Linked DNA regions of Homo sapiens. The protein of the gene in region 3 purifies or fractionates together with the protein of the main gene of each other region. This does not show direct contact. Each region holds a gene or a part of one and is shown on either strand. Other genes may lie near its edges. The genes, in order: HNRNPUL2, HNRNPU, PRMT8 and CHTOP.

What was found.
Region 1: the proteins of PRMT8 (region 3) and HNRNPUL2 purify together in Homo sapiens (affinity purification with mass spectrometry; 4 studies listed by BioGRID and IntAct, with this or other methods). This does not show direct contact.
Region 2: the proteins of PRMT8 (region 3) and HNRNPU purify together in Homo sapiens (affinity purification with mass spectrometry; 5 studies listed by BioGRID and IntAct, with this or other methods). This does not show direct contact.
Region 4: the proteins of PRMT8 (region 3) and CHTOP purify together in Homo sapiens (affinity purification with mass spectrometry; 4 studies listed by BioGRID and IntAct, with this or other methods). This does not show direct contact.

Annotation. Positions count from the first base shown.
Region 1 is NC_000011.10:62,717,449-62,724,491, forward strand, and holds part of HNRNPUL2 (heterogeneous nuclear ribonucleoprotein U-like protein 2), read right to left. Parts: intron 6,979-7,043; coding exon 6,843-6,978; intron 6,543-6,842; coding exon 6,466-6,542; intron 6,279-6,465; coding exon 6,139-6,278; intron 5,456-6,138; coding exon 5,365-5,455; intron 5,266-5,364; coding exon 5,153-5,265; intron 4,933-5,152; coding exon 4,669-4,932; intron 4,495-4,668; coding exon 4,372-4,494; intron 3,976-4,371; coding exon 3,847-3,975; intron 2,744-3,846; coding exon 2,575-2,743; intron 1-2,574.
Region 2 is NC_000001.11:244,849,754-244,854,543, forward strand, and holds the end of HNRNPU (heterogeneous nuclear ribonucleoprotein U), read right to left. Parts: intron 4,751-4,790; coding exon 4,697-4,750; 3' UTR 544-4,696; downstream 1-543. UniProt on the Homo sapiens protein: DNA- and RNA-binding protein involved in several cellular processes such as nuclear chromatin organization, telomere-length regulation, transcription, mRNA alternative splicing and stability, Xist-mediated transcriptional silencing and mitotic cell progression.
Region 3 is NC_000012.12:3,486,415-3,494,218, reverse strand, and holds the start of PRMT8 (protein arginine N-methyltransferase 8), read right to left. Parts: upstream 3,017-7,804; 5' UTR 2,594-3,016; coding exon 2,519-2,593; intron 1,488-2,518; exon of another isoform or gene 1,400-1,487; intron 1-1,399. UniProt on the Homo sapiens protein: S-adenosyl-L-methionine-dependent and membrane-associated arginine methyltransferase that can both catalyze the formation of omega-N monomethylarginine (MMA) and asymmetrical dimethylarginine (aDMA) in proteins such as NIFK, myelin basic protein, histone H4, H2A and H2A/H2B dimer.
Region 4 is NC_000001.11:153,644,055-153,646,838, reverse strand, and holds the end of CHTOP (chromatin target of PRMT1 protein), read right to left. Parts: intron 1,776-2,784; coding exon 1,570-1,775; 3' UTR 533-1,569; downstream 1-532. UniProt on the Homo sapiens protein: Plays an important role in the ligand-dependent activation of estrogen receptor target genes. May play a role in the silencing of fetal globin genes.

The DNA.
Region 1 (7,043 bases), on a different chromosome or scaffold from region 3:
GAACTGGGTTAAAGTTTCTCATCAGGACAGAAGCAGGTAACCAGAGGCTAAAAGTAACTGAGAAAGTTCTGGTGTTGGTCAGATAAGATGCTAAGAAATAACATTTTAAAAAGAGACTCAGAGATGGCCGGGCATGGTGGCTCACGCCTGTAATCCCAGCATTTTGGGAGGCCAAGGCAGGCGGACTGCTTGAGGTCAGGAGTTCGAGACCAGCCTGGCCAACATGGTGAAACCCTGTCTCTACTAAAAATACAACAATTAGCCAGGCATGGTGGCAGGTGCCTGTTATCCCAGCTACTCGGGAGGCTGAGTGCCACTGCACTCTGGCCTCGCTGACAGAAGAGAGACTCAATGAGAAACTGACCCAAGCCTAAAGGCATCTGCTCATCTATACAAGGAGAAGAGAAGACAAGAGTACAAGGGCTCTCATTTACCACCTGTCCGTGATAGGCCAGCACATCTGCCAGTCTCTGGACGTCAACTTCAGAAGCTGAGTCCCAGTGGAAATTCAGTTCAATGGGGCTCTCATGATTCTTAGATGAATCCAGTTGGCCCTCAATTTTATAAAACTGAGCTACATTTCTCTGAGTGCCTAAGTAAGAGTTATGGACTGGCATAGTTCATTCTCAGTAAACTCTGAGGATCTGGCTCATAGATATGCAAACCAGTTCCCATGCCTGGGGATTATCAGTATTTGAAGAGCAAGCAGTTGCTAGACTCGGTGGGATGTCAGGAACTAAAGGCAGCAATGGGAAAAAAAATCACGTTTTAAGGGAATAGGAGGATCAATCAAAATATTAATATTTCTTATGTAGACATTACTCTCTGTCTTATGTATTGCATTACAGACTTCAGCCAAATTAACAAACAAAACACAAACATAACGTGATACCAGAAATCAAGTTATACCAATGAGATCATTCACTCCAACTGCCATATTTTAATCTGAACCATAATAATCTCTCCCTGCGGCCAGGCGCAGTGGCACACACCTGTAATCCCAGCACTTTGGGAGGCCGAGGCGGGCAGATCACCTGAGGTCAGGAGTTCGAGACCAGCCTGACCAACATGGCGAAACCCTGTCTCTACTAAAAGTACAAAAATTAGCTGGGCGGGCACCTGTAATCCCAGCTACTCAAGAGGCTGAGGCAGGAGAATCGCTTGAACCCGGGAGGCGGAGGTTGCAGTGAGCCGAGATCGCGCCACTGTACTCCAACCTGGGCGACAAGGGCAAGACTCTGTCTTTAAAAAAAAAAAAAAAAAAAGCAGAATAAGAAATGTAGACAAACAGTAGATGTACCAGAAATATTTACTTAACAAATAACTGATTCACAGAAGCCTCTCCCTTGATCCTTTGAGTTTAAATTACCCTACGGTCACTTTTTTTTTTTTGAGACCGAGTCTTCTCACTCTGTTGTCCAGGCTGGAGTGCAGTGGCACAATCCCAGCTCACCGCAAACTCTGCCACCTAGGTTCAAGCAATTCTCTGCCTCAGCCTCCCGAGTAGCTGTGATTACAAGCGCCCACCACCATGCCCGACTAATTTTTTTTGTATTTTTAGTAGAGACAGGGTTTCACCATCTTGGCCAGGCTGGTTGTGAGCTCCTGACCTTGTAATCCACCCACCTCAACCTCCCAAAGTGCTGGGATTACAGGCGTCAGCCACCGCGCCTGGCTCACTATTTCCCTTTCTGTATCTTTTTCAAAACGAGCCAAGGCGGCTAGGCACAGCGGCGTATGCCTATAATCTAAGCACTTTAGGAGACCAAGGCGGGCAAATCACCTGAAGTCAGGAGTTCCAAGACCAGCCTGGGCAATATGGCGAAACCCCATCTCTACTAAAAATACAAAAATTAGCTAGGCATGGTGGCACATGCTTGTAATCTCAGCTACTTGGGAGGCTGAAGCAAGAGGATCACTTGAACCCAGGAGGTGGACGTTGCAGTGAGCTGAGATCACACCACTGCACTCCAGGCTGGGCAACAGGGTGAGACTCTGTCTCAAAACCAAACCAAAACAAACCAAGAAAACAATGAGTCAAAATTATTGCTTCTCTCTGTTCATTCATTTATCTACAAGTGCTCACGACCATTAAGTTCCTCTTCAGATTTACATTTTAGATGTAGAGTGTCACTCCAGTTGCTAAGAGACCTCAATAAGGTGTGCACTGACCAGGGATAAGATCTCTTTAACTTGTACAATTTTAGCCCACTGCTATGGTTTGAGTTATGTCCCACCAAAGTACAAGTGTTGAATACTTAATCCCCAATGAGCAGTATTGAGAGGGTGGGACTTTTAATGTGATTTGGTCATGAGGATTCCATCCTCATGAATAGATTAATGCCATTATTGTGAAAGTGGCTTTGTTATAAAAGCAAGTTCTCTCACATGTGCCCTCTTGCCTTTTGCCCTCCTGACATGGAATGATGCAGCAAGAAGGACCTCACCAGATGCTAATGCTATGCTCTTGGACTTCCTAGCCTCCAGAATGAGGGAAATAAACCTCTATTACTTACAAATTATGAAGTCTATGGTATTCTGTTATAGCAGCAGAAAATGGACTAAGACACCCACCTTTCATCTCCAGCATTATAGATTCAGGCACATCATCTCCCTCTACTTCCTTCCTCAACTCCAGCCTCTTCTTCCAATCTTCCTCATTAGGGACAACCACCACCACTTTCCGAGAGAAGGTCTTGAACAGCAATAGCTTCCGCCGTTGGCCAGAATTGTACACATTACACTAAGAACAGGAGGAATAACTGATGTTTAGGAAGAAAATTATCACTCAGATTTAACCAAAAGAATCAGTATCAGCTGGGCACGGTGGCTCACGCCTGTAATCCTAGCACTTTGGGAGGCCGAGGTGGGCAGATCATCTCAGGTCAGGAGTTCAAGACCAGCCTGGCCAACATGGTGAAACCTCATCTATACTAAAATACAAAAATTAACTCGGCATGATGGTGGGTGCTGTAATCCCAGCTATTTGGGAGGCTGAGACGGAAGAATCGCTTGAACCCAGGAGATGGTGGTTGCAGTGGGCTGAGATCACGCCACTGTACTCCAGCCTGGGTGGCGGCTGAGCAAGATTCCATCTCAAAAAAAAAAAAAAAAAAAAAAAAAAAAGGCCGGGCGTGACAGCTCACGCCTATAATCCTGTTATCCCAGCACTTTGGGAGGCTGAGGCAGGTAGATCATGAGGTCAGGAGATCAAGAGCATCCTGGCTAACACGATGAAACCCTGTCTCTACTAAAAATACAAAAAATTAGCCAGGCATGGTGGCGGGCACCTGTAGTCCCAGCTACTCGGGAGGCTGAGGCAGGAAAATAGCATGAACCTACGAGGCTGAGCTTGCAGTGAGCCGAGATAGCGCCACTGCACTCCAGCCTGGGCGACAGAGCGAGACTCGGTCTCAAAAAAAAAAAAAAAAAAAAAAAAGACTCAGTATCTTTGACAACTTAGACACGAGATAAAGGGTCAATACACATGATCTTCTTTAACTTTTCAAACTACATGACAGGTATTATCCTGTTTTGCTCATCAGGGAAACTGAGGTTCAGAAAGGATAAGGGACTTATCCAAGATCACAAACCAGAATGTGGTGGAGCCAGGAATTCAAATGAGTTCCAACTCTTTCCATTGTCTTTATTACATGTTTTATAGCCTGGGTCCATATATTTTCAAGTAAAAACACTAATTAGGGGTACCTCTGAGTTCAAAAAACATTGCAACCATAACACACAACCAGATGGTCATAATTAGGTAAGCTGACTCTGCTCCTTAATTCAGTCTCTCTTTATATACACATCCCACCTTGACTCTAGGCAATTTTATCAGATTAATACCTGATCAAGAATAAAGTTCCTCTTTGTCCGGGAAGCAATCTGGACCAGCTTACTAAGGCACTGGGAGGCTTGCTGAACTAAAAGGTCTCGGCTTTTGGGGTCCATCTCTGGCTCCTCGAGACCCTTCATCTGATTAGTTTGAGAGGAAGTGAAAAAAAAAAACAAAACACAAGTTATATTGCAAGTTAAAGCCCAAGAGTTATTGGTAAATGTCACCTCTTCAAATACTGAATCTATGATATCACTCTATTCCCATTCTTCAGTGCTGTGAATGTTGTCCATTTCCTGCAGTAGTCATTTCTATCTAGTCTTAACCTGGATGTATTTCAGATCTCATCTGCTTTCAGAAATTTGACAACACAGCAAAGAAAAAAAAAATCAATCCACCTAAAACGCATAGAGAAAAATCTCATTTCTCTATTTCTGGGACCCTTGTTCTCAGACACTTGAGACTAATTCTCCATTAAAGATAGGTTATAAGAGTCTCCAAATACTGTATCCGACAAATCCCCAACAGCAACTTACCCTCATTTGATTGAGCACAGTCTCAGCTCCCAGGACATTGTATCTTTTCTCAGGGTTTTCTTTTGCATATTTCAGTGCCCACTGGGTCTTTCCAGATCCGGGTAGTCCCACCATCAGAATCACCTGCAAAAAACAGAACCAGAAATATAATGAAAAATAAATGAGGGTCATGTTTATCAAAACCAATTTAAGAACATCCTCCCATTCCTGTTTGGTAACGCTCTGAGACCCTGGAGAGCATACGCACCCACCTCTGCAAAGCATACAACCTCAGTGTTCGTATACTGTTTGGCATACCTCACATTCCTCTATGGTCTTGGGAGGGACTGCAGTGCGTACACGCTCCTCAACAGGCACAGCATGAATGAACACAAACTCTTCTGGTGGTGGGAAGAAGGGCTCCTCCTTCTGACCGAAGTTTAATTCTACAACACAATTTTTGCAGAGGACATGGGGTAGAAGGGCCCGGTCTGCCAGGGAATCCTTGCTGATCCAGAATGCCACACCTAGGTCTTCTCCATTCTTGGAGAAGGAAAGTTCTACTTCTTCAGTCTCAAAATTCTACAATGACAAGGGACAAGAGCACTTATTGGCTGACGAGGCTTTGGGTTGATTAAACTTTACAATTTATTCTTTTTTCACACAGACTGCTGCACAAAGTAACTAAGCGAGCCACACACATCACATGCATAAAAGCCAGCAGTTGATGGGAAGCACAAGTGAATTCCCAGTGCCCTCTATCCGCTCCTTGTTATAACCCACAACTTTCAGGAGCACTTACAGCAAAGCAGCCAATAACATCATTCTCCCCAAAAGTCTGGCCAAATTCCTCAAATTGTCCATTTTCTGCCTTGAGTCCTCGTCCATCGAAACCGTAAGAGAATTCATCTTCACCTAGAACAGTCAACAAATTAGTTACCTACAACCGGACTTCCCATAGAGTAAGCAATATGGTAGTAAACACTAATGAGGAACTTAAAGAAATAACTTTACCAAGCTGTGGACGGGAAAAATCAACAGACCACCCAACTCGAAGGAGAGAGACCTCTGTGCAGCCTTCTTTCATTGGGAGATTCTGGGTTACCTGGCCAAGTCAGAAAGGGAACTATTAGATATTGTGACCAACTGAGTAGCAAACTCTGAGTTCGAAGGACAAGATTTTTATACAAACTGAAAACGACATTTACCTCAACTCAACATCAGAATAACAATCACTGAACTTAAAGCCACAGGGATCAATTTCTTGGTTACTGAAACTAAGGTTCTTGTTAAAGCACAGTGCTTTTACCTACCTGCACTAATAAAAGCCTGATTGGACAGAAGTCCAGTATACATAGGTAGTAGCTTAATGAATAAATGAACGGTCTTTTTAAAAAAATATTTCTTCCCCAGCCAGGTGCGGTAGCTCATGCCTGTAATCCCAGCACTTTGGGAGGCCAAGACGGGCGGATCACCTGAGGTCGGGAGTTCAAGACCAGCCCGACCAACATGGAGAAACCCCATCTCTACTAAGAATACAAAATTAGCCAGGTGTGGTGGCGCATGCCTGTAATCCCAGCTCCTCGGGAGGCTGAGGCAGGAGAATCGCTTCAACCCAGGAGGCAGAGGCTGTGGTGAGCCGAGATGGTGCCACTGGACTCCAGCCTGGGTAACAAGAGCGAAACTCCATCTCAAAAAAAAAGAGATAATAATCTTCTTTTCCCCCTCTAAGAACCGTAAGCATCCAGTAATAAATGAATGAATGAATGAATGGTCTTAATGAGCTACCTTTGCCTCAAAGCAGACTTTTCCCTTTGTCACTCCGTAAGTACTCCTTGCCCCAGACCAAAGGGTGGGGAACTTCTCTGAGAAAAGTGGCTGCCCTCCATAGCGGTCTTTGCTCACTTGAAAATGCAGATCCGAGGTATCTGTAAAGAAAGAAGCAATCAGTTTACTCCAATGTCCAATACTTGTAAGCCGCCAACAGAGCATAAGTATACCAGTTGTTGTAGTGGATACAAAGTCTCATAGAATTTATAGGCTATGAAGTTTTAATCTCCAAAATCACTTTTAGGAGATTAGTTAAAAACCACAGTCTGTCTGCCTTATACATACACGTGTCCAGGTTCACAAGAGTTTGATCCTCCTCCTCATCTTTTGCCTCTTCTTCAGGAGGCAGTGGAGACTTTGAGCTATATATGTAAGATAGAAAAGAAACACAATGTAAACAAAGCCCTCTTCTTTGAGGGGTGTGTGTGTATGACATTATGTCCATTTTAAACTGTCAGTGAATATCAAATCCCAGCAGACAGCTTTTTCCAATAAATGAGAAAGGGCAATAGGAGTTTCCATGGTAGATGCAATCTAAAACTCATGCCTATAAAAACCTATTCCATTTTGAATCCACCCTCCTTCCAGTCTCTCCAGTCAATACCAGGTATACCAAAATCAGAGCAGACACTCCCTTCAACGAAAGGGACTGTTTCCCTCACCGGCTGTGGTAAGCCTCCTCTCGGAATTCATAGTAAGCTCGGCCATGTTCATCCTTCTCATCCCGCTGTCTCTTTACCCCCCGCCGCTCACCATCTGAGCCTGCTGGTTTTGACTTTTCACTATCCTGGTCATCTCCTACAAAAACGAGGGAAAGAAAATCAGCAGTTTTCATACTGGAGTGTAGAATAAGCTCACAACTA
Region 2 (4,790 bases), on a different chromosome or scaffold from region 3:
TCTACTACATAGGTGTTATATTTTCTGAATAATTCTAGGTTAACATTATGAATATCCATTATGAATATCCATTATGAATAACCCATCTATCTATGTCCAATCTACTATCCCTTAAAACTATTATTAAAGACTCCTGGGGCAACTAATGAAAATTACTTCAATCATTTATATTTTTAGTCAATTGGTTAGGATGTGAAAGCATAGTCCTGCTCAATAATGTAAGCATATCATCTATTTCCCACCTAACCTCTTTTCTGAGACTGTGCTATTTCTGCATGACTTGAGATTGACATAAGTGTGACGCCAAATAAACTAGCACACATATTAAGCTAAACATAATGAAAACTAAATATTAAGATGAATTGTTTCTGTTCAATTTCAAAAATATACCCTTGGGGACCCCTGGTTTTTCATCTACTCCAACACACTCAAGAGATATATACTACATTAGTAGTATAGCTCACTTCCAAATTCTCAAGGGCTTATTCTAATTAACAAGTTTAGTAACAAAGGTTAGTAAGACAAAGGTCACTCCAACATGAGTTAGCTGGACAAAGTACTTTTAATGCTTATTTTACAAATATGTACCTGTGGTGCTAATACTAGGCAAAGAAAACAGGACGATTCAAGAGCAGCCTATGTAACTACCAACTCAAGCACTAACACTAGCTAGATCACCTTCATGCTTTAAAATTTAAAGTTATGGAGTAGCTGTGCCCACACCCCCCCCCAAAAAAAAGCTTTAATAAAGGCACTGCAGCGTTAACTAAGTTTTAGGGTAAATTTAGGCAATTAACAATTCGAAGAGACTTGTGGTTTATGTATTAGTAATTCAAATTACTGTTTTAGAGATCTCAGGTAGTTAACCAATTCTTGCTCAAAGCACTAATGTTCAGTCCCTCACCATTTATGCTGGGTATGAGTCCCAATGCATGGGTATTGCAACCTATTGTCAGGCCTTAACATGTATGTGTTTGCTTTTATTATTACTAAAATGTTAAAACTTAAACCCAATTATTCACCAAACTCTGAACACCTCAACCTCAGAGCTCCAGAATTAGGAATGAATGACAAAGTTTAGACTCTAATCATTTTAAGAATGTTAGGTGGGAAGAAATGGCTTCAGATGCAGTATTGTGTTCATCTTTCCAGGGGAACATCTCAAATGGGTATTCTGAAGCAGGTTGAGAAGTAGATAAAATTCTCTGCTACAAGTTCCATCCACTTTTTTTTTTTCAAGAGACCAGGTCTCACTATGTTGCCCAGGATGGTCTCAAACTCCTGAGCTCAAGTGATCCTCCCGCCTTGGCCTCCCAAAGTGCTAGGATTACAGGCGTGAGCCACCACACCCAGCCAAGTTCCATCCACTTTTGAAAACAAGACATTTATGTATAGGAAGAGAATTATGGAAACACTTTGTAAAACATCCATTTATTATATCCAATGCTAAACACTACCACTTGGACTCTAAGATATGTTTATGCCTCTCTGTTTATTCTAGTTTTTTAAAAATCAAATATACAAGATCTACAATTATTTATATCCAAGATGTCTACACCACTGCCTAAGAAGCTATTAAAATATTTGTATTTGTGCAATGGAACCCATTATTCACATGGTCCTAGAATAAAAAGTCAATTTATATTGTGAATAAATTTATCAAAAAACATGTCATCCAATTCCCACAAATGAGACATTTTAAATACAGAATACACTCTGTTCATGAATATAAAATCCCCAGGTGAAAGTCCCTTAAAACACTATTATGGTTATGTTTCCTAGAATAATTTTATAACTTTTTCAGAGAATTCCTTTAAACTTGTTAAAATACCTTGTTGCTAGTGCTCAGAACATCTAGGTTCAGTCTTTATTTTTAAGACAGTATCTATCCTAGGCAAATGAGAGCTTGTTTTTATGTATTTAAGAGTTTCCTCTTGTCATTTCAATGTCAAATTGATTTGACTCAATTTCATGATTTCATCTCGCTCAAGGCCATCAACCGGTCAGAGCCAGAGCCCTTCAAAGGCTGTATGTGAGTATATGAGGGAAAACTTTCCACATAATTTTACATCATTTCTATCTCATAGCAGTTTTAGTTTTCTCATAGCTATCTCATAGCAGTTTTAGTTTTCTCAAATTCTATGCTGTTTTTGTACTACTGCAGCTGACCAATCCAAAGCCAGTTTACACTCAGCATGTGTTATTCTACTTTAAAATATAACCTTAGTGAAAGCACCCTTCAAATCAACAGCAATCTCACAGTGAGTTTCCTCTGGGTAGTCAGGATTTGTCCAGAACTACATCCTTTTCAGATGTTCAGAGTTTTGCTTGCCATTAGGGAGGCAAGGGAAGGATGAGCAATAAATCAGGTTTCTCGTTCGTATCTTACTTCTTACCTAATTTTCTCCCTGTTGCTTATTTGGTACATTCCCTTCTCTGAATTCCTTAAACACTTTATAAGGTTATTTCTGCCATACAAGTGTAGACAATTGTATTAATTCTAGTCTTGACTAAAGATTTTAACATTTTTCTGGGTGCCATTTTTATCTATTCTCTCTCCCCCCAAATTCTCTGGGCTAAACAGGCATGATAGTCTACCTAGTGTTACTTGACCATTACTTTCCCACTGCAATTATAAAATGAATTCCTTAATAAGCAATTTTAAACTAGAAGATATATCCAAAACTTTTTAAAGGCACAAAGGACAACTTTAGGACACAACACTGATTAGCATCAAAACCTGAAACTGTTCCTCTAGTAAGTCTATGCAATCCTAATAATGTATACTGAAGAGTAGTAGCTCAGGCCAGTGGTTCTTAGCATTACTTGCTAAAAAAGATAAAAATCCATGACACTATCTTCAACTGTTAAATATCTTATGTTAACTAAGGATTTGCCTGTTCCAAAAATGTCTCAACTGAACCTATACATCACCTAAACTCCAGCTTATAGCAAGAAAATTCCTTAGAAGTATGAATTCATATTTATGATCTGATTTTAAAGGGCTAAAACAAAATTCTAAGCAATCAGAAATATAGCAAACCTAAACTTACCAAAGCAACCTAAAAACACCAAGGAAACGCTAGACTGAAGTCAAATTTTAGTTCTACAGTTTGACTCCTGATTCCTCACTTCACATTGGTGAGGGGAAGATTAAAGTGTTCTGTGCAAACCCAATATAATTACAATTAGGGGATCTAATGTTATTACATAGCTACAGTCAAGTTAGCAGTGTTGTGTAGCAGTGACATCAATGACTGGCTTGCATGATGGCTTCTAAAAGCATCTGATCCCAGAGTTTCATGTATCATATATATGTATATAAAATAATCAGTTGAGGACAGCATTAGCATTCTGTAAAGATGATAAACTCAGTGTTAACTTCTCCCAGCCAGTACCTTTTCCCCTCATTAAATATGTTAAAAGTTGTCTGGGGGGGAGGGGAAGGGAAGAATTCAACTTTACTTCATAATTATGTATCAATTGTCAGTATACATTTAAGTTTTTAAAACCTAAATGTTCTATGCAGAGTAAAGAATAAGCTGTCCAGAAAGCACACACTTAATAAATTTCTCCTCTTGGGAGTTATATAAAGGGATTTTGAACCTTGATGGCGAGAATCCCAAAACAAGAGTAAAATGAATTCTTTTTATTGCAAACAAACGTCTAAATTAATTTCTCCACCCACTTTCTTTAGAAAGAAAAAGAAATCAGCAGGCTAAGGAGATACCCATTCAAGAACTGACATGATTAAAAATTAAGATATAAATGGGTGACTCACAATTTCATTAGCTTACAAAGATGGTGGAGTTAACTACTACAAGCACACTAGTTATACAGTATTTTGTGGGAGAAGGGCATACAGACATGGCTAACTTCATATAGATCCCATTAGACAACTGGATTTACAACAAGTTTTTTTAATAAGAAATGGGCAAAGCCAGCTTTCTTTTCAGAATCAAAATGCAGAACAAATGGAAAAATTATGGTATTAACCTTCACAAGTTTGAGCCTCCACAAATAATGCAACCAAGTTTTACATTTTTAACAGCCCTTCTACATACACTCCATCTTCTCTATCTTAGTTCCAAGTTTTAGTTTTCAATCCCAATTATACCAATTCCATTGTTATTTTAAGAAAAAACCTTCCCAGTTATTGTCAGAAACTATGATTTAGCTTACCCCCTCCACTACCCAGCAAACTACAGAGAGGATGGAGTGTAATATGAGCAGTACAGAGTCTTAATGCAATTCATGAGGACCACTTAGTCCTTACATGAATCTGGTTGCTAACATTTCTATTATATTGTGACAATGACTCCCGACTGTTATTCTCTGTGAGAAATGGGGGGAGTAAATTCTTAATAAAAGACACCAGGTACAAAGCAACATTTTACTTCTGTTGTGATAAAAAAAAAAAAAAGTCACATTTTACAGATAAAATGTAGAACCCTGAAATACTGACACATTCTCTTATCGTGCACAATGCTGAGGTTCTCTTACGATTCACTTTTAAACTGCAATTAAAAATGTACAAAAAAGAAAAGAAAAAAAATCAACCCACAAAGCTTCTAAAAAAGGAACCCGCAGGCACTTCCTCTTGTGGAATGTTTAAAAAGTTAGCCTACTAAAGAAAACAGTCGACTTCTTGTGAAGGTTTTGGAGAAATATGTATCAGTTCGTTTTATTTGGGTATTCAATAATATCCTTGGTGATAATGCTGACTCCATGGCTTCTGACCCCAGAATTGCTGTAAGAGAAAATTTTGTTTTTAAAGAAAAAACATCAAT
Region 3 (7,804 bases):
GAACTTGGGTACCTAGCTTTCCTGGTACAGAGCCGGTGCTTGACAAAGAGGTGTGGAATTCAGAACTAGGACCACTACCACGCTCCCCACCACCCACTGACACACGTGGAGGCGTGCTCCTGCCGCTCTCATCTACCATAAATGCAGGCAAGTCCACAACACCCCACTTTTGGAAGTGCTGCTCTAGTCCTGGCTTATTCCAAAAACAGCCAGTTCCTGGAGGGAAACCAAGTGATTGTCACGCTGCCTGGATGCCTCCGCTAGGCACGTTTGACCAAGTCTGGGTTCTACCCCTTCTCCAGGGAAGTTGCTAAGAACCGATCCGCCAACCTGGCTCACACCCCTCCAAGGAGCCCCAGCTGGGTCTGTCCCTCCCCGCACCGCCTTGGTGCCCCGCACGCGACGTGGTTTTTTGTTTGTTTGTTTTGTTGTTGTTCGCAGGAGCCCGGCCGCCCCTACTGCTGTTTTCATTGATGCCTTCAGCAGAGCTGGCATGTGCAACTGCTGAGAAGGGGGAGCGCGGAGCGGCGGGGGAAGCAAGTAAAAATAGACTGGCGCGCGGCGCTCTGCCTGCTCCGGACGCCTTTAACCCTCGCCGAGGCTGGGAGAGCGCAGCAGCCGCCGCTGCACACTGCGGAACCTGGCAGGGGTCTGCACCCAGACCCCGCGCGGCAGCGGGGGTAGGAGGCAAAGGGAACCGCAAAAACTTTTTCTTAGAAAAATGAGCCGGGGGTGGGGTGAGGTGGAAATGCAGGGAGGAAGCGCCTTCTCGCTTCCAGGGCTCCAGCCACCTGGCAGAGACCGCTACGTGCCCGCTCGCTCCACACTTCACAGAAGCGCGGCCTTGAAGCCCTGGGCTATTTTTAGAAACCCTTTCGGCGGGTGGGCGATCAGAGGGCGGAGGGTGAGGGGAATGGTAAGGATGGCTTTCTGCTGGGAGGCTAGCCGCCTCGCACTACACATCATTCCGAATGTCTGCTCTCAGGTGGGGGCTGGGGAAGAGGAAGTGGTGAGGGGACGGCGGGCACGCAGGCTTTGCCCTAACTCAAGGAGACAGCATTCGCTACTGAATGCCCCGCTGCGTTCAAGTCCCGGAGCGTGTTTGTTTTGAAATTGACAATTGTCAGATGCATGCTGCTTCTAGTCTCTCAGAGAAGGGGGATTTATAAAGCTTTGCTGCCTACGCCGTGGGGTAGGGGTTTTAGCGCAGAGTTAAGAACTCGAGGGAAGAAGACCAGGAAGGGTCTCTCTACCTTTTTGCATTCCGGCAAGACAGAGGGACAATCCCCGCGCCACACCCCCATCCCCGCCCCCCGCTGCATATGGGTAACCATATGTGAAATGTGCGGCAGCCCCACCAGACACCCAGCTATTAATAGAGCCTGGGAGTTTGCTCTCTGTGTCTTTTTCCTGCCACTGAGTAAGGGATGATCTTCACACACATGCCCCACTCCGCCCCCATCTCGGCGCACCGTTTCTCCAGGAAGGTAAGGGGGCTGCCCACGCTGATCCCCTTCGTGACTACAGGTGCCCAGAGCCTACGGAATAGTCCGGTTGTTGTAATGACAGCGGGGTCAGAGGGAGGCGAGGGATCACAGCCTCGAGTCTCGGGACGCAAAGCCCAGCAGGGCTCTCTGCGGCTCAGGGCCAGCTGGAGAGTAGAGAAAAAGGCTGCCGAAGGCGGGGGCCGAGAACACAATTTGCGGAGCTAGAGCGACCTCCTCAAAAGCCCTTGCGGGACGGGTGGCTGCAGACCCATTTCTCACTGCAGCCGGCGGCGCGCAGCCCCCACAGTCCGCGCAGGCTCGGCTGCTGCAGGGGCGGACGCTGTCCCTGGTGCTGAAGGTGGCCGCGGCCCGTGTGCCCTGCCGGGTTTAGCTACCCAGAGGCGGCTCTGATATCTGAGGATTGCAGACTTCTCTCTGGCCCAGATCTGGGCCGGAGGGTCTGTAGGAGGTGCCCGAGTCCTCCTGCCGGCTCGGCCCCCGCGGCCGGGGGCTCTCCGCGCGGCTGCGGGGACGGAGAGCTCGGGAACCGACTCGAGCTTGAAGGGTAAAGCTGAGGCAGCGGCAGGAGACGGTCAAGGCACTGCAGGGGGCAGACCTGGCCCCAGGATTACCCACCCCAGCTCTGCACAAAGCCGGGACCCGGGAGCCCTCACGGAGCCCAGAGGAGAGGGCAGGGGAGCGCGGCTGCCCGGGGTTTGGGACTTGGGGGCGGGAGAAGGGAGCAGCGGGTGGCAGGAGAGGGTGATGGGGTGAGAGTGACTGTTTTGCATTTTCAAGAGGGAGGGGACCTGAGACATGAACTTCCCCCCCACCCCCCACCAACACACACACACACACACACACACACACACACACACACACACACACACACACACACAGGAGGAGGCCGGCAGAAGCGAGCGGGATGAAACTGGGGAAAGTTTGGCACTCGGCGCTGAGCGGCGGCGGCGGCGCGGTGGTCCGGGTGGGCGGCGGGGTCTCCGAGAGCCCCTGCTCGCTCGCCTCCTTACCTCGGTGCTCTCGGCCGCGTTCTCCGCCATTTTCCTCCTCAGGAGCAGGCAGCGGGAGGAGTGTTTCATGCCCATAAGAGCCGGCAAGGGTTTGGTGATACCGAGATAGTAGAGGAGGAGAGAGAGCTGGTGTCGCTTTAAAAGAGAGAGCGAGAGGATGGGAGAAAAAAAAAAATCCAACCCAGCCCCTCAGCTGGAGCGTCGGCCGGCACAGTCAGCCACAGCGGAGTCTGTTCTGCAGTCTCCACTTTCTTTTATTTTCCTCCCTTCTCATCTGCTCCGGATTCCTTCACACGGTTTCAAGTTCTTCTCGTGCCCCCGACCCCCTCCCCGCCCCTCTCCACCCGCGCTGCGGGCTAAGCTCGAGGGAAGCAGCCCCGAAGCCTCCGCGGCGGCGGCGGCGGCGGTCGCGGATCCTCTCCAGGCTGCTCGCAAAGTCCGGCCGGCCGGAGGCAGCCGCCAACTCCTCTCAACTTCTGCCGATCCGCTGGGCGAAGCAACACGCTTCCTGCGCGTCTCTCCTAGGGGCTGAGCCGGGTGAGTGGGGGCGGGGTAGGAGGTTCGCTGGAGCCGGCGGCGGCTGGGCGCAGACCGAGGGCCCCCAGCGCCCCCGGGCCCGCCCCCTCCCCTAGTCTCCGAGGGTCTCGGCCGCCTCCACTCCCTGGCGCTGCACACAACTTACGTGGAGGCCAGGCCCGCGCGGGGGGCCCAGAGAAAGCCGGCGCCGGGCGAGGCTCTTGCAGGTTCTCAGACCCGGTGCGCGTGCTCCCACCTAGGGCGAGGTCCGGGCGAGACCGGGCCACAGTTAACTCGCACCCTCCCCACCCCGGCCCACCCCAGCTCTCCCGCTCCTCTGCCAGTTCCTGGATCCTTCCTCGGCGAATTACGATTTGGGGAACGAAGGGGTGGGTGTCTGGATGGGGGAGGGTCCTTAACTCCTTCAACTCTAGGGGTAAGTGTGGTGTCATTCTTTATCCTTTTCTCTCTCTCTCTCTCTCTCTCTCTCTCTCTCTCTCTCTCTCTCTTTGTACCCAAAGCCCTTGGGACTCCAAGCCCCTTTCAGGCTGAGAGGGAGGGGCAAAGGTGGCGGCCAGAGTGGCTTGGGAAAGAGGGTGGGAGAAAGTCAAATGCGAGACTGCAGTGCCCCCCCCCCCACTCCAGTCTTCCCTGGCAGCCCCCTGCCCACGCATTTCTCTTCTCCCTCCTCACCCTTCCCCCACCATCGCCAGATTTTGAAGTCCCTTTTATGGGAGAGAGGGAGGATGTCACGTACCCGTCAGGATTCTCTTGATCCTTTTTTAAGGGAGTTTGGGCGGCAGCAGGGGGTGTGAATTTTTATACAATGCATTCCTGTCTTCACTTTGAGAGCTTCTTTTTCTCTGTTTTACTGGCCATCTGTCGGGCAGTGGGAGATAGAACAAAAGCGGGGGACCCCATTCTGCCTCTCCCTTTGCAACAGGACACTCAGGCTGACTCCTTAAAACAGCTGTACTTTTAAGCTTTCAACCTACGAGTCAAGGACTGAGACCTATAAGATGCTCCCTGAGCACCCGGCTGTCTTCACTTCATCTCTGTACTTGTTTGGGGAGGTCCCTCCCAAATGCCCTATTTGCTTTTTATCATCACCTTCGATAACTGGGAAGTGTGAGCCTGACTGTCCTCAACTAACCCCAGAGTCCATTGAAGAAAAGGTCTAGAATCATTCTCAGTAGGAAACATGCCTCCATCATCTGGTCCTCGGGCAAAGAGAGGATACATTGCACTAAGTAGAGGTGAGAAGTGAGGGATAGAGACAGGAGAGGATGAAGAATGAGAAGGATGAAAATGTAGCAAGAGGCTTGAGTGTGTGTGTGTGTGTGTGCGCGCGTGTGTGTGTGTGTGTGTGTGTGTGTGAAAACTTGAATAAAAAGATGACCTTAACCTCCTTAACCTTTTCCCTTCTCAGAACACAGACCTGGGTTAGAGTTGGGGGTGAGTGAGCAGAATCCTTGACAACACCCAGTCGTTCCTCCCGTTCTGTCAACATGCAGAAAGTGGTAGGAAAATAAATGTGAATCTGGAGAATGACTTTTATCCTATTGAATTCCCTTTTCTCTAGGCATCTTCTCAGAGACAAAAGATTCTGAGAGACATCTAATTCCCTACCAAAAGTGTCTCAGTGTTTGTGCAATCAAAGGAAATCAGAAAAGAAATGATCCTCACCGCTCTGTGGTCCAATCCTCTCATTTTACAAATAAGGACCCCAAGATTGGAGAGAGGAGGACATTTGCCCATGGTCCATCAGCAAGCAGAGGACCCAGCTCCCCAGCCTCCTGACTTTCAGTCCGACACTCTGCCCCCACCCAACACTGCTTCTGCTTGTGCATGCCTTCTGTGACTAACCAGGGAGGAGGGGAGCTGAAACAAGCTCCCACCGAAATAGGCTGCTGCCTGTGCGTGATTATGTTGCTATGAGAACCTCAGTGGGTGTGTTTCCTCCTTTCGCTGTTGAAATCTTTTGCTTTGCTTGGCTTCTCCCCAAGCACAGACACGTCTCCCTTTGGAATGGGGAGTGGAGAGGCTGAGATGGAGAGCTATATTTTCATGGCAAGAGTTTTCTGTCCCAACCCATCCAACCCAGAGCCAGCCTGGGGCTGTGAGTGAGGAGCCTATGCCACTAGGGTGGTTCCATAAAGGCTGGAGTACAGGAGTGAACTGTTTTGAAAGTGGATACTCTAGCCCCCTGTTGAGCTGTCTTAGAACAAAGAGGTGCTGTTCCTGCTATGTAACCACCTAAGAACAAATTCACAAGCAAGCTAATTATTACTTTAAGAGACGAAGTTTGGGGTGATTTGTTATACACCAAGAGATGACCTGAACATTCACATCTTATGATTGTGAAAAGTGCCTAGCACATAGTAGGTACTTTGTAGAACTATTTTCTCAGCATCCCTACCATTCCTGTGAATTCAGTCTTTCTCTATCTCTTTTGCAAAAATATATTAGCATAGTCTTTCACCAGGTTAATTAGTTTAGTCATCCCACAAATAATTTACTAGGCATCTCTTAAATGCCCAGCTCATTAATAGGCACTAGCCTTAACAAGAGGCAACAAAACATATTGAATTGACCATTGATGAGCTCTTAATGTAGTCATGTTGGATGCTTTTACAGGTACAGATCTTCTGTAGAACTCTTAAGGAGATTTTCATGGGAGGCAAGAAAACATGTGGGATGATAAGGGGTTCAGAGAGTTCACTAGTGTGTGAGTCAAATGGGTAGTTTGAAACAATAGACCCTACCAGGTAAAGAGGTTCTGAAGACGCATTTTATTTATGTAATTTTTCTTATACTAGATCTTCAACACAACAAAAGTAGAGTGCTTAGAACAATGCCTATCTCATGGCAAGTGCACAAATATTATGTCAACATTCGCTAGGCCCTGTCCTAGGCACATGAGTTAAATTTTATAGAACACTTGCTAAGTCTTATAGAACACTTACTATATGCCAGAGATTATTCTTGACCTACCTGTGTTCTCATGTAGCCCGTTCAACAGCTTTTTGAGGTAGATACAATTATCCCCATATAACAGATGAGAAAACAAAAACACAAGGAATTGCCCAAGTGGTAGAGGCAAGATTCAAATCTAAGATACCTGATTCCATAGCATAAACCTCAAGAAGTTGACCAGGTTCAGGGAGCAAGACAGTGGTTCTCAACCTTGGCTATACAGTGGAATCATCTGGAGAGCTTTAAAAATACCAGTGCTTTAGTTCTACCCCCAGAGAGTATGATTTAGTGAGGTTTGGGCATCAGGATTCTTTAAGCCTCTAATTCTAAGGGACAGTGATGATTGGAGGACAACTGGACAAGAATATCTGGAGACAAAAACACCTGCAGAGGAAGAAGATCCCTAAGTTACAGAAGATCCAAAACAAGAACCCCACACTGTAAGGAGGTCTATCTCTAACTCACAGGTTCTTGAGAGGCCTGGACTGGAGGAAAGCTGTGTTGATGGTTGGGATGAGACCCTTGGGGAGGGTTACAATTACAAAGGTTATCCAGCTTTGTGAGATGCTGCAGAAGAAGTGAGTTTCCTATTACTGGAAAGGCTCAGTTAGATTAATTGTTGGCGTAAATGATGTAGAGGCCCCACAAACGCCAGAAGGTTGAGCAAGCCCTCTGAGGTTCCACCTGCCTTGTGCTGGGACTCTGTAATTCTGTCTCCTGTCAACTCTGAGCCCATGCTGGAACCCCAGAAGGTGAAGACTGTACCATACTTCATCTCCAGGGGCCAACCAACACTTCCTTTTGCTGCTGCCCAAAATCCCAGGCCCCTAGAATCAGGAAGCAGCATTTTAACTGCGGACCATGCTGCCTGGGAAATCTCAGGCTCTAGCTTGTTCCAATGGTCGTTGCTGCTGAAAGGGGCGACATATTATGTGGTTTTCTCCTCCTCCTCCCAGGGGACCTCACACATGGCCAGGGTTCACATATGGCCACAGCACACTGCAGTGAATCCACGACTCCTCGAGAATCAGGCCAGAGCCATGATCCATCACCACCTCATGGCAGCTACCCCAGCAGTGTTCTTAGTGTCTTCTGGGCCAGATGGGAGCCAAGCCAAGGCTGCAGCAGCCAGCTACCTGGCTGAGCCTCCAGGCAGCCCCACACCTGGGCCGTTCTCCTACACAAAAGCCTCTGTGGTCCTATTCCTCCCTAACCCAAGGCCCAATATTTTTAAACTGCATTCCAAAGAACAACTCGCTGAGTGCCACCAATACCTGCAAAGCAATATGAGGTGGGATTTTTCTTTTGCCATTAAAACCAGAATGTTATTTCTTCCTTGCTCTGATAATGTCTGATTAAATCAATTCACTGCGGTTTTGTGCTGGATATGATACTATTTGCTTTAACAATATCTGGGAGGCATTTTCTTAGTATAATACTTCTGCATTTATAGCTTAATCCTGCTGTTTTATTCTAAAAAGTTGAATACTCTTGTTACCTACCTTTCTCTAAGGATGAGAAAGACCCAAAAGATTCTGTTGTGCTGCCACAACAGAATTAGCTTTTTCTACTGGGTGGACGTTGTATACTCTACTCCTTTCCTCCTTTTTAAATCTTTCATTAAGGCTCACCTTTTTATGGGAAATCTCTCTGGAATCCCTGAAAGCCAACTGGAAGCCATTCAGTCTTTCCAGTGCAATAACTTAATACATATTTTTTTCTGTTAACTTTATATGACTATGGGCCAAGCAAGTGCTAAGTATTCTGGACTAAAAGGTGAAGAGACTTATCTCT
Region 4 (2,784 bases), on a different chromosome or scaffold from region 3:
TGGTGTTATTTCTGCAGAGCTCAGAGGAAGTCAAATTCTTCACTTTCTGCTCAAAGCCACAGGCTCTCCAGAATTTTAACACAAGTAAGAAGAAAGAAACTCTCAACCATACAAGGGGTATATCAAGACATCATTAAAGTGGCTGGGTGCAGTGGGTCACGCCTGTAATCCCTGCACTTTGGGAGGCTGAAAGTGGGTCACGCCTGTAATCCCTGCATTTTGGGAGGCTGAAGCGGGTGGATCACCAAGTCAAGAGATCAAGACCATCCTGGCCAACATGGTGAAACCCCATCTCTACTAAAAATACAAAAATTAGCTGGGTGTGGTGGCACATGTCTGTAGTCACAGCCACCCGGGAGGCTGAGGCAGGAGAATCGCTTGAACCAGAGAGTTGGAGGTTGCAGAGCCAAGATCGCGCCACTGCACTCCAGCCTGGTGACAGGAGCGAGACTCGGTCACAAGAAAAAAAAAAAAAAACATCATTAAAGTAGCCATGGCATTTTGAGGCACCTCAAATAAAGAGAGTCCTGGGTGGATTTAAGCGAACAGTTTGTTATAATGAACCAGAAATACAAGATTCCACTGAAACTGAACAGTTGACAGAATATGGTTGAACTTAAACCTTCAAGGGAAACAAGGGCAAAACAAAGCTAATGAGTGGAAAAGTCCAAGATTAGTTTGGGATAAACATGAGGATATAATTGCATTTTAGCATGGCTATCTTCTGACCTCTTCCAGCAGTTCGTCTGCCATCATTCTCCCTTCTGACACACCTACCAAATCAAATGGCTTCTGATCCTCTATATTGCAGTATAAACCAACCCTATAGTACCCCTCTGGTCATGATACAAACCCAGAAGGAAAGTCTGTAAATCTCATACAAAGGTAGAAAGTGCAATTCAACCCAACACGCTGGTTATGGTATATGTGCTGTCAATGTACATGGTAGCAACTTGAATCAAACCAGAGCTGCTACCACATGTAAGCAACCTCTTATGCTGCCCTGTAGTGATGTCAATGTTCTCAGTTTACTAAATTATCAATGTGGAAGAACGCATTTTTGAGCTCCAGACCTTCTAAACATTTTAAACAGGCTATCGAAGAGGATGTAACAGAACCCTATTTCAGAAACCTAAGGATCAGGGAGGAAGGAACACTGACCGGTTTTTCTGGGATGTTTCTGTGGGGGCAACAGGGATGAACAAAAGAAATGTTAGCATGTCAGAGCATATGACAAGTGAGGGGAGACAGAGGTAGGAAGAGGGTGTTCTAGCCACAAGGCTAATGCATTTGTGTTCAAAGAGAAGTCTGGGCAAAGGAGGGGAAACCCCCCCTCCCCCCTAAAAAAACAAAAACAAAAAACCAAATCAAAGGACAAAAGGGTTTCATACAACACAGTATCAAAAAGTAAAAGGAACACACTAAATGCACAAGCTGGTGGCAAGTAAGTCCACAGCCTATTGTGATAGGTCCATCCAGCATCAATCAGATTTCTTCTCATCTGTTATCTCAAGGTTATTTACAGATGTGTTGACTAACAAGAGTCTCTCATGGGAGGATGGGCAGGCTTCAATCATTGGTTTCGGGATCTGTCTGCGCCATGTAGGCATCCAACTCAGCATCCAGGTGTCCTTTTGTTTTCGACATATATGCATCCAATTGGTTGTCCAGCTGCTCCTTGGTCAATACAGGGCGAGCAAGGGCACCTCTCCCTCGTCCACGGCCTCGGCCTCGGCCTCCAAAGCCCCCTCTTCCCCGACCTATCATACCCCGACCTGGCCCAAAGGGGAAAAAAAAAAAAAAAGAGACAGTTACAAGTAAGTTTAATAGGTGCTGTAGTAAATGCCCCTTAGAGCAGTGGGGCCTAGCTGAGAAAAGCTGAAGGGCAGGGCAAAGAGGAGAAATCTGGAAAAAAAGGAAACACAATGGGTAGAAAGCAACACATGGAAAGCACACATAATGAATCCTCTATCACATGATCATCTCTAAATGCTATTTTAACAAATTTTATTCTATCAATAAAGGAAAATAATTAACTGGCAACTATAATTTTAAAAAACCTTAATCAATCCTAAGATAAAATTACCTAACATTTGAGATTCACTAAGTTCATAATTAAAATACATGACAGATAACCCCATTTGGTAAGATAGGGAGGTGGTAACAAGAGCACAGAGCATCAGGGGTGTGAAGACAAGACAGTTTTCAAATTAAGTTTATTGGAGACCCTTCTGGAAAGTCATCTCACCTGTCCTTAAACTTATCAAGTCTAATGAGCTAGCTGACCTCATGTGTCAGGAGACTGAGTTTTTCTGACACAGGAACAATGTAGGGGAGATTTGAAAAAATATTTTGAGTTGTCCTAGCTATTTCTACCTTTAATTCTAGTTACCTTATGACAACTGACAATTGTGGTTATCTGAGAAGCAGTGTGAATTCAGTTAACAAAACAAACTCAGCTTTTTGAAAAGCTATTTTAGTCTCTCCCACCCTCGTGATGTCTCTCAGGATCCAAGTCAAGATAATTTGGAAACATGTTATTTCATCCTGAAACCCAAACTAGCTTGCACTTCACTCAGTAAGTATCATATAATGGGAGAGAAGAAAACAAGCCCTTGGTTATCAACTTTTCTTTCCTAACAGTTATTATTCCTTGGCAACTTCAAGGTCATAAGTTATGGAAGACCCAAGACACCTTTTAAGAGAACCAAAGCAAATATACACAGGGGCTTCAATAGTGTTTTTTTTCTGGACAGGTGTTGGGAGTTTTCCACTAAGCTCTAA